Linked DNA regions of Homo sapiens: regions 1 and 2 are each linked to region 3. Evidence: fine-mapped expression QTL. A gene starts in region 3. Each other region holds a variant in brackets. All regions are shown on one strand. Distances are between the middles of the regions.

Region 1 (2,758 bases), 27 kb before region 3:
AATACCAAAAATTAGCCGGGCGTGGTGATGGGCGCCTGTAGTCCCAGCTACTCGGGAGGCTGAGGCAGGAGAATGGCGTGAACCCGGGAGGCAGAGCTTGCAGGGAGCCGAGATCGTGCCACTGGACTCCAGCCTGGGTGACAGAGCGAGGCTCTGTCACAAAAAAAAAAAAAAAAAAAAAAAAAAAAGAAAAAGAAAAAGAATAGTGTCAAGTAATCTTCTATATATACATGAAGAAACCCTGGAAGGACACTTAAAAAGTGAGCACTGGGCATGTGTGCATGCCTATATCCCAGCTACTCAGGAGGCTGAGGCAGGAGGATTGCTTGAACCCAGTAGTTTGAGTATAGTCTGGGCAACATAGCGAGACCCCATCTCTTAAAAAAAAAAGTTAAAGACAGTGGTTACAGGGGTAGGAACTTGGCAGATGGGGTCATGAATGAGATGAAGACTTCAGTACATTTTTTTTCCTACTATGAACATTCTGCTAAACATGTGACTGTATTAAGTATTCAAAAAATTAAACACATTGAGTAAGGAAAAAAACAAGTTATCTACAAATTGGTACAATTCTCAATTACACAAATAATTTAAGTATTTAGTTTACTTTAAAAAGCTTTTTAATATTTCATGAAAGAAACTTTCCAACATAGAATTCTACACCAAACTAAATGGTCAATTAAGTGTAGGTATAAAATGAAGCCACATACTCAAAAATGTTTTACTCACATGAAGTTCTTAGGAAGCCAATGAAAGAAAGGCATACGTCATCAGAATGAGGAATAATAAACTAGGAGAGCAATACATGCGGTCCAGGAAATGGGATGCATTAGAAGAGAAGAAAAACCATGTAGAGTACAATTCGAGGATTCCGAGGTTGGTGAAGATTATCTAGGCATCAGATCCAGAGTGCACAATCTAAATTAGAGTAGGGCACATGGCTATGGGAGAAATTCCTCCAGGAAGGTGGAAATTCCAAATATCTTTGAACATACCAAAAGATTTACACAAAAGAGAAGAGTCTGTGGTTGAATTAGCGATAAGTATATAGAAAAAAAAGCAGACAGATAACTGAAAGGAAAACAAAAAAGTTTAGAAAGGAAATGTAATTGTAATGTACGATACTCATTAGCTATTTTATTTTAAAATAAAACTTTATTTTTTAAAATAATTTTTGTTTCAACTTTATGATGACAAATAATTTTCAAGTTTATTTCCTCATTTGTTTAAATACAAAGCTAAACCACAAACAGGTACAACAAAGATACTATCTCACATCTACACTCCCGTCAGATCCTCTTCGGCTGACCACTCACCAGGCTGACTGGGGGAAGAGACTTTCTTAGGTAGCACCGTTGTGAGGCCCAGGGTGGGGTGGGGGAATCAAAGGCGAGGACAGGCTCTCATACCTGCTTCCATTCAGATTTACCTGGGACCAGGGTGGGCAGGAGACACCAGGTCATGACTCCCGAGTCTCACTCAGTAAGAATGGGTCCTGCATAGCTGGGTGCGGTGGTTCACGCCTGTAATCCCAGCACTTTGGAAGGCCGAGGCGGGCGGAT[G/A]ACGAGATCAGGAGTTTGAGACCAGCCTGGCCAACATGGTGAAACCCCGTCTCTACTAAAAATACAAAAAATTAGCCAGGCGCGGTGGCATGTGCCTGTAGTCCCAGCTACTCAGGAGGCTGAGGCAGAAGAATCGCTTTAACGCGGGAGGTGGAGATTGCAGCGAGCCGAGATTGTGCCACTGTACTCCAGCCTGGGCGACAGAGTGAGACTCTGCCTCAAAAAAAAAAAAAAAAAAAAAAGAAAAGAAAAGAAAAGAATGGGTCCCGTGTAGGGAGGGTCGAGGCCGCCACCTACTCCTCCAGCCTTGACAGTCTAGGTGAAAACCTTGGCCTATCTTAGATTCCCGGGGGTCTCGGCCCTGCCCGCACACCTGGGCGCCTTTCTCTGAGGCTGGCAGCCGCAGTTCGGGTTGGGGGATCTGGGCTTGTGTACTCACCCCCGCCAGCTCATGGCTGCGACCTCGCAGGAGCCGTGGGTGTCTGACAAACACGAGGCCTAGACGGCAGCTCTGGAACTTTCAACCCAGCAGGACGCGGGGAAAACTGGCAGGGGTATTAAGTACGTAATTTCTGGTCCCACTACAAATCTCTAATTTTGATTAGAATAGAGTATCATCTCAATCTCTTCTACAAAAACAAAAGCAATGCCCCCCCCAAAAAAATACAGCCGCTTCACTCACTTCAAGACCTATGTACATGTAAGTTGTTTCCTGTGTTTTATTATTATTTTTTAATAAATTCAGCGTTCACATTTCTACAAAGAATTAGCCCAGTTTCAGGAAATTCTGCCCGGCAGGGAAGGCAAGCCACACTCTCCTCACCCACGTCTGGTTTGACTTCACACCCCGATGCTTCCAGGTGCTCAGAAAAGCCGCAGCGGGTGGAAGAGGAAATCTATGCCGGCCCGCGCTCAGGGCCACGAGCTCAGTAAGCTTTCGAGAAAGCACGGGGAAGACAAGCTTACTGCCCAATCTTTTAAAAATATATTCATACACTTCAAAGAGCGCCTGTCCAGATGTTAGGAGAACAAGAGCTTGGAGCCATCCCGTCCAGGCCTTTGGGAGACAGCGTCTTCCTCATACCTCGTCGCGGTGTGGGGGACACGTCCCAGCTCTTCCACCGGAGAGAGGAGACTCGCGCGGCTTCCTAGTTCACGTTTGGCTCTAATCCTGTGCTGAGGTTTTTTTTTTTTTT
Region 2 (2,758 bases), 31 kb after region 3:
GTGTTAAGTGACAAAAAGTAACTTACAGAAAGGGGATTTAATATGTGTCTTTGGATTAAAAAAGGAGTGGGAAAGGAAGGGAGTAAAAATAAGAACCTATATTTATACTTTAATATATGTGCATAAAGAAACTCTGGGCTGGGCACGGTGGCTCATGCCTGTAATCCCAGCACTTTGGGAGGCCAGGGCGGTCGGATCACCTGAGGTCAGAAGTTTGAGACCAGCCTGCCCAACATGTCAAAACCCCGTCTCTATTAAAAATACAAAAATTGGCTGGGCGCGGTGGCTCCCGCCTGTAATCCCAGCACTTTGGGAGGCTGAGGTGGGCAGATCACGAGGTCAGTAGATCGAGACCATCCTGGCTAACATGGTGAAACCCCGTCTCTATTAAAAATACAAAAAATCAGGTGGGCGTGGTAGCGGGCGCCTGTAGTCCCAGCTACTTGGGAGGCTGAGGCAGGAGAATGGCGTGAACCCAGGAGATGGAGCTTGCAGTGAGCCGAGATCACGCCACTGCATTCCAGCCTGGGCGACAGAGCGAGACTCTGTCTCAAATAAATAAATAAATATAAATAATTAAAAAATAAATTAAAAAATATAAATAAAAATACAAAAATTATGTGGGTATGGTGGTGGGCGCCTGTAATCCCAGCTACTAGGGAGGCTGAGGCACAAGAATCACTTGAACCCAGAGGCGAAGGTTGCAGTGAGCTGAGATCGCACCACTGCACTCCAGCCTGGGCGACAGAGTGAGACTCTGTCTCAAAAAAAAAAAGAAACTCTGGAAGGGGGTGAAGTGGAAGGGGAAACTGGGAAGATGCAGGGTAAGAAAGAAATGTTTCGCCTTTTATAATTTTTTATTTTTGAATCGTGAATATAATAAAAAACATTAAACTTTTAAAATAGAAAGAAAAGAGAAAGAAGAAGCTCTTGAAGACCTCTGAAATGCAGACGCTGGCAAGTTCCCACATAGGACTCTTGATTTTCTCAGTCTACCTCTTCTGGCCTCAGTTCCATCAGTCAAACACAGTCCATTTTTTCCATGTGTCTTCAGTTTCTCTCCCCAGCTTCTCCTTCTTGTGTGCATTCAGGTTTTCAATATCACCACGAACAAGTTCAAGTCATTCCTACCCTTGAGAAAAGGGGCTCTTTTAATCCTGCTGTCCCTCTAGTTACTTACATTGTTACTCTTTCCCCTCTCAGCCAGGCATTTTGAAAG[A/G]TTGCGCTCACATCTCACCACTTCCTGTTCATTCACTCTCGACCTTGCTGCTGTCTGGCTCTTCCCCAGCCTCTGATGAAACTGCTCTTGCAAGCACTAAACTGACCTCCATATCGCAAAGCCCAATGCAATCCCTGCTGCATTTGACTCCACTGTTAGTAGCTTCATTCTTGACTCTTTCTCCATTGGCTGGTCTCACTGCTTTCCCTGCTTAGCTTTTACCTCTCGGAGTTTTTCCTCCAGCCTCCTGATGTGCTTCTCTATCTCTGCTCTGAAATGATGATGTCTCCACGATCCAACCTTGACTCAAGAGTCTTCCCTCTCTATTTGGCCTTCTTATTAATATCAACCACTTTCATGATTTTATCCACCAGCTGATGGTTGATCTGATGACTCCACAACTGGAGGCTCTAATTCTGTTCTTTCTCCCACCTTCACATTATTATATATATCAGTGGCCTGCTGGACATTTGCATCTGGTTGTCCCATTTTAACATAACATATTCAACACTGAACTACCAAACTAGATGCTCTTCTAAAGTCTCACAGTTTTCTTTTGGTCCATCTAGTTGCTCAGGCCAGAAACCTGGGATCACCCTAAATTCTGTCCTCTCCCTCTCCACAATCCACCTTTGCATCCTTTATCTTCTTAGTTATTCCTGCATCCACCCCATCTCAACCCCGCCTACTACCACTCTCCTCCTGAGATCATAAAGGTCTAAGCTAATTGAGAAGCAAGATGGTAGAGTCAAGAGACTTTTAACATACTTTAGTAAGTAAAGGATAATTTTGAGGTAGAGTGAAGAGACTTTGGTGACTAATATACATGCGTGGGGACTCAGGATGACTGAATTTTTAGCTGGGTCAGCTGTGACTTAGGGTCAGAAAGGGGAGCAGGCCTGCAGGGATGGAGATTAAAGTTCCATTAAAGTTCCATTTGGACATGTTAATATTGAGGTGCCCATGGGACTGAGACTCATAGTGAAAGTCCAGGTTGGAGCAAAAGATTGAGGGTCACATTTGAAGCAAAGGAAATGAATGTAATTACCCAAGGGAGTGTTTCAAATGAGCATGTACCAAGGAAGGAGTTTTGGAGACTCAAAGTTTCAGGAGCAAATAGAGAAGAAGGAGTGGCCAGAAGTAAAAAAAAAAAAAGAACCAGGAAAAAAGCCATGTCCTGGATGCTGAAGGAAGAAAGAATTTTATTTTATTATTATTCTGAGACAGGGTCTCCCTTTGTCACTCAGACTGGAGTGCAGTGGCAGGATCATGGCTCACTGCAACCTTGACCTCCTGAGCTCAAGCTATCCTCTGCCTTAGCCTCCTGAAGTAGCTGAGACTACAGGTGTATGTCACCATGCCAGGCTAATTTTAAAATTATTTTTGGGAGAGAGGGGGGGTCTCACTATGTTGCCCAGGCTGGTCTTGAAGTCCTGGGCTCAAGCAATTCTCCTGCTTCAGCCTCTCAAAGTGTTGGGATTACAGGTGGGATCCACCACACCAAGCTTGGAAGAGATAATTTTAAGAAGGTGAGAGGTG
Region 3 (2,758 bases):
TTTGTATTTTTAGTAGAGAAGGGTTTCACCATGTTGGCCAGGCTGGTCTCGAACCCCTGACCTCAGGTGATCCACCCACCTCGGCCTCCCAAAGTGCTGGGATTACAGGTGTGAGCCACCGCACTCGGGCATCATCTCCATTTTAAAAAACATTCATCAAATCAGGATCCAACCAACGTCCACACCTTGTATTGCCACCGAATTTCTCTTAAATCGTTTTGAAACTGCACACAGGTCCTCCTCCCTGCAATTCGCATAGCAACCAAGCTGATCCTCACTGACAATTTCCAAATAACTATAATAACTCTATTCTGGAGATATCACAAGTGCCGGTCTTAGAGCTTGTCAAATGTATACATATATGTTTATATTTATATATAAATGCACAAAAGCACACAAGAAACCATTTCACTCGAAGCAATAACAATCCTGAGAGCTAAACACTCGTTCATGTCTTTTGTGATGCTTCTCGGTGGGGGTTATCTCTGGGATTTAAGCGACACTTCCCCTTACCGGAGACATTTGCGCAAGTGTAGGACGAAGCGAGAGCGGTTCCTTCCAGCCGAACCTGCCTCCGGAGGCCCGGTCCGTGCGTTCGTCTCCGGACTGCAGGGGGCGGCCCTGCCACCACCTCGAGGCCACCTGCGCAGGTGAGAAAAGGAGTTTCAGTCTCCGGGTTCCTGGGGGTGGTCGCAGGTAATCTAGAGGGAATTTTGAGCCAGCCAGGATGGTCATCCAGGAACCTACCCGGACGCAACGGCCTCGGAAAACAAATAGCCGGGCAAGGCCCTGGGGCTTAATCCCAGTGGCGGGCGCGGGCGGGGGCGCCGTCCCCAACGCTCGAGGCCAGGGGAGGGGAGGCAAAGTCGGCCCCAATGAATGCACGCACGCGCGCGCGCGCGCGTGTGTGTGAGACTATTCACCTCTGGGCGCCAGGAAAGAGCGAAGAGTTGCATACACCCATTTCTATAACCTTGCTGGGTTTGTCATGTTTAAAAAGCATCTCCCCTGGAGAGAGGGTGGCGAGTCTCTGGGTGCGGGACACGCCCATTCCCCAGACCCCCTGCCCTCAAACCCACGACAGACCCCAGTTGCTAAGGCTCCGCGGTAATCCCCATCCCGAAGCAGGAAGGCTCGGGCGTCCGGGCTCCACTCCTGGATCTCTTAAGTAGCAGAGAACCCCCAGCCCCTGAGTTCCTGCAAAGGAAATTCCTTCCCCTCCCAGGCGCGCTGAACGCCCGGCCAGGGAGGCTGGGAGCGGCGCGGGGACCGTTCGCCGCCCCGAGGCTGGGACGCCGGTGGCGAGAGCGCCGGGCGCCCTCCACCTGCGCCCGCACTCACCCGAGGATCGATGGCTGTCGGCTCCGCAAGGTTGAGGCCCCGACACCTGCAGCGCCCGTGCCCAGGTGACCGCCCGAGGGAGGGGCGAGGGCCCAGCTCGCCCGCCTGGTCCCGCCCCGCCCCGCCCCGCCCCGCGCGCTCCCGGGAGGGGCAGGGGAGCACGGCCCCGGGACCCCGCGGCGACCCTGCTGTGGCTCAGCCGGCTCCAGACCAGGAAATGCGGGCGTCAGAGACGGGCAACCTTTGAGCGCGCACGTCCCGTCCGGGCCCAACGAAACAAGGGCCGGAGGGCGCCGCCTGCCGGCGGGACGGAAAGATATCACAGAGACTGTCACCCCCCGCCGGCTAGGAGAGGGCTGAGTTGAGGCTGGCAGAGGGACGCAGCCAGGGGTGCGCAGTGCGGGAGCCGCTTGGGGGCTCAGTGAGACCCCCTTCCTCATGCCACATCTTGAGGACCCGGCCCCTGTCCTAGGAGCTCCCCATCTCCCCAGCAGGCGGGCGAGCGGGGGCCACTGGGTCAGGGCCTCTCCTTCCCTTACCTCTGCAAATGTAAACTTGGCAGTTGTCTCCAGATAAGAGTTTACACAGGGTGGCCAGGCGGTGGCTCATGCCTGTAATCCTAGCACTTTGGGAGGTCAAGGTGGGCGGATCACTTGAGGTCAGGAGTTTGAGACCAGCCTGGCCAACATGGTCCACGTTGGTCCCCATGTCTACTAAAAATACAAAAATTAGCCGGGCTTGGTGGCACGCACCTGTAATCCCAGCTATTTGGGAAGCTGAGGCACGAGAATCGCTTGAACCCAGGAGGCGGAGGTTGCAGTGAGCTAAGACCGCACCACTGCACTCCAGCCTGGGCAGCAACAGCAAGACTCCGTATCAAAAAAAAAAAAAAAAAAAAAAAAAAAAAAAAAAAAGAGTATACACAGGGTGACAGAACTTCTTGAAACTTGTATGCTTCTAAGCAACCGCCTGCAGTGTACTGTGAATTCAGATTTTTAAATAAAAATCTGCAAATATTAAATAGCCCATATATTGCATTGCCTTTTTTGTGTCAACAGTGCTAATTTGTTGTCATTCAACAAATATTTGTTGAGCACCTACGACTTGCCGGTCATTTAAACATTTAAAATATCGAACAATTAGGCCAGCGCAGTGGCTCAAGCCTGTAATCCCAGCACTTTGGGAGGCCGAGGCGGGTGGATCACTTGAGGTCACGAGTTCAAGACCAGCCTGGCCAACATGGTGAAACCCTGCCTCTACTAAAAATACAAAAATTAGTTGGGCGTAATGGCACATGCCTGTAGTCCCAGCTACTTGGGAGGCTGAGGCAGGAGAATGACTTGAACCCAGGAGGCAGAGGTTGCAGTGAACCAAGATCACGCCATTACACTCCAGCCTGGGCAACAGAGACAGACTT

What was found. PIP is the estimated chance that this variant, and not a neighbour inherited with it, causes the effect. A credible set is the group of variants that fine-mapping cannot tell apart.
Region 1: its variant is the best candidate, but not a certain one, in a credible set for the expression of GPR160 in whole blood (INTERVAL, PIP 0.57).
Region 2: its variant is the best candidate, but not a certain one, in a credible set for the expression of GPR160 in blood mononuclear cells (TOPMed, PIP 0.59).

Annotation. Positions count from the first base shown.
Region 1 is chr3:170,063,561-170,066,318 of GRCh38, reverse strand. All of the region lies in intron 2 of GPR160 (G protein-coupled receptor 160), which reads right to left. Among named protein-coding and RNA genes, the nearest start is that of GPR160, 27 kb to the right of the region's middle. The variant G/A (reference allele first, on the strand shown) is at 1,563.
Region 2 is chr3:170,005,710-170,008,467 of GRCh38, reverse strand. No RefSeq gene overlaps it. Among named protein-coding and RNA genes, the nearest start is that of GPR160, 31 kb to the left of the region's middle. RefSeq lists an enhancer at 1,147-1,226. The variant A/G (reference allele first, on the strand shown) is at 1,220.
Region 3 is chr3:170,036,799-170,039,556 of GRCh38, reverse strand. It overlaps GPR160 (G protein-coupled receptor 160), which reads right to left and starts at 1,562. Exons shown (of 4, transcript NM_014373.3): 1 at 1,342-1,562; 2 at 514-642. RefSeq lists silencers at 538-587, 748-797, 1,108-1,587 and an enhancer at 183-682.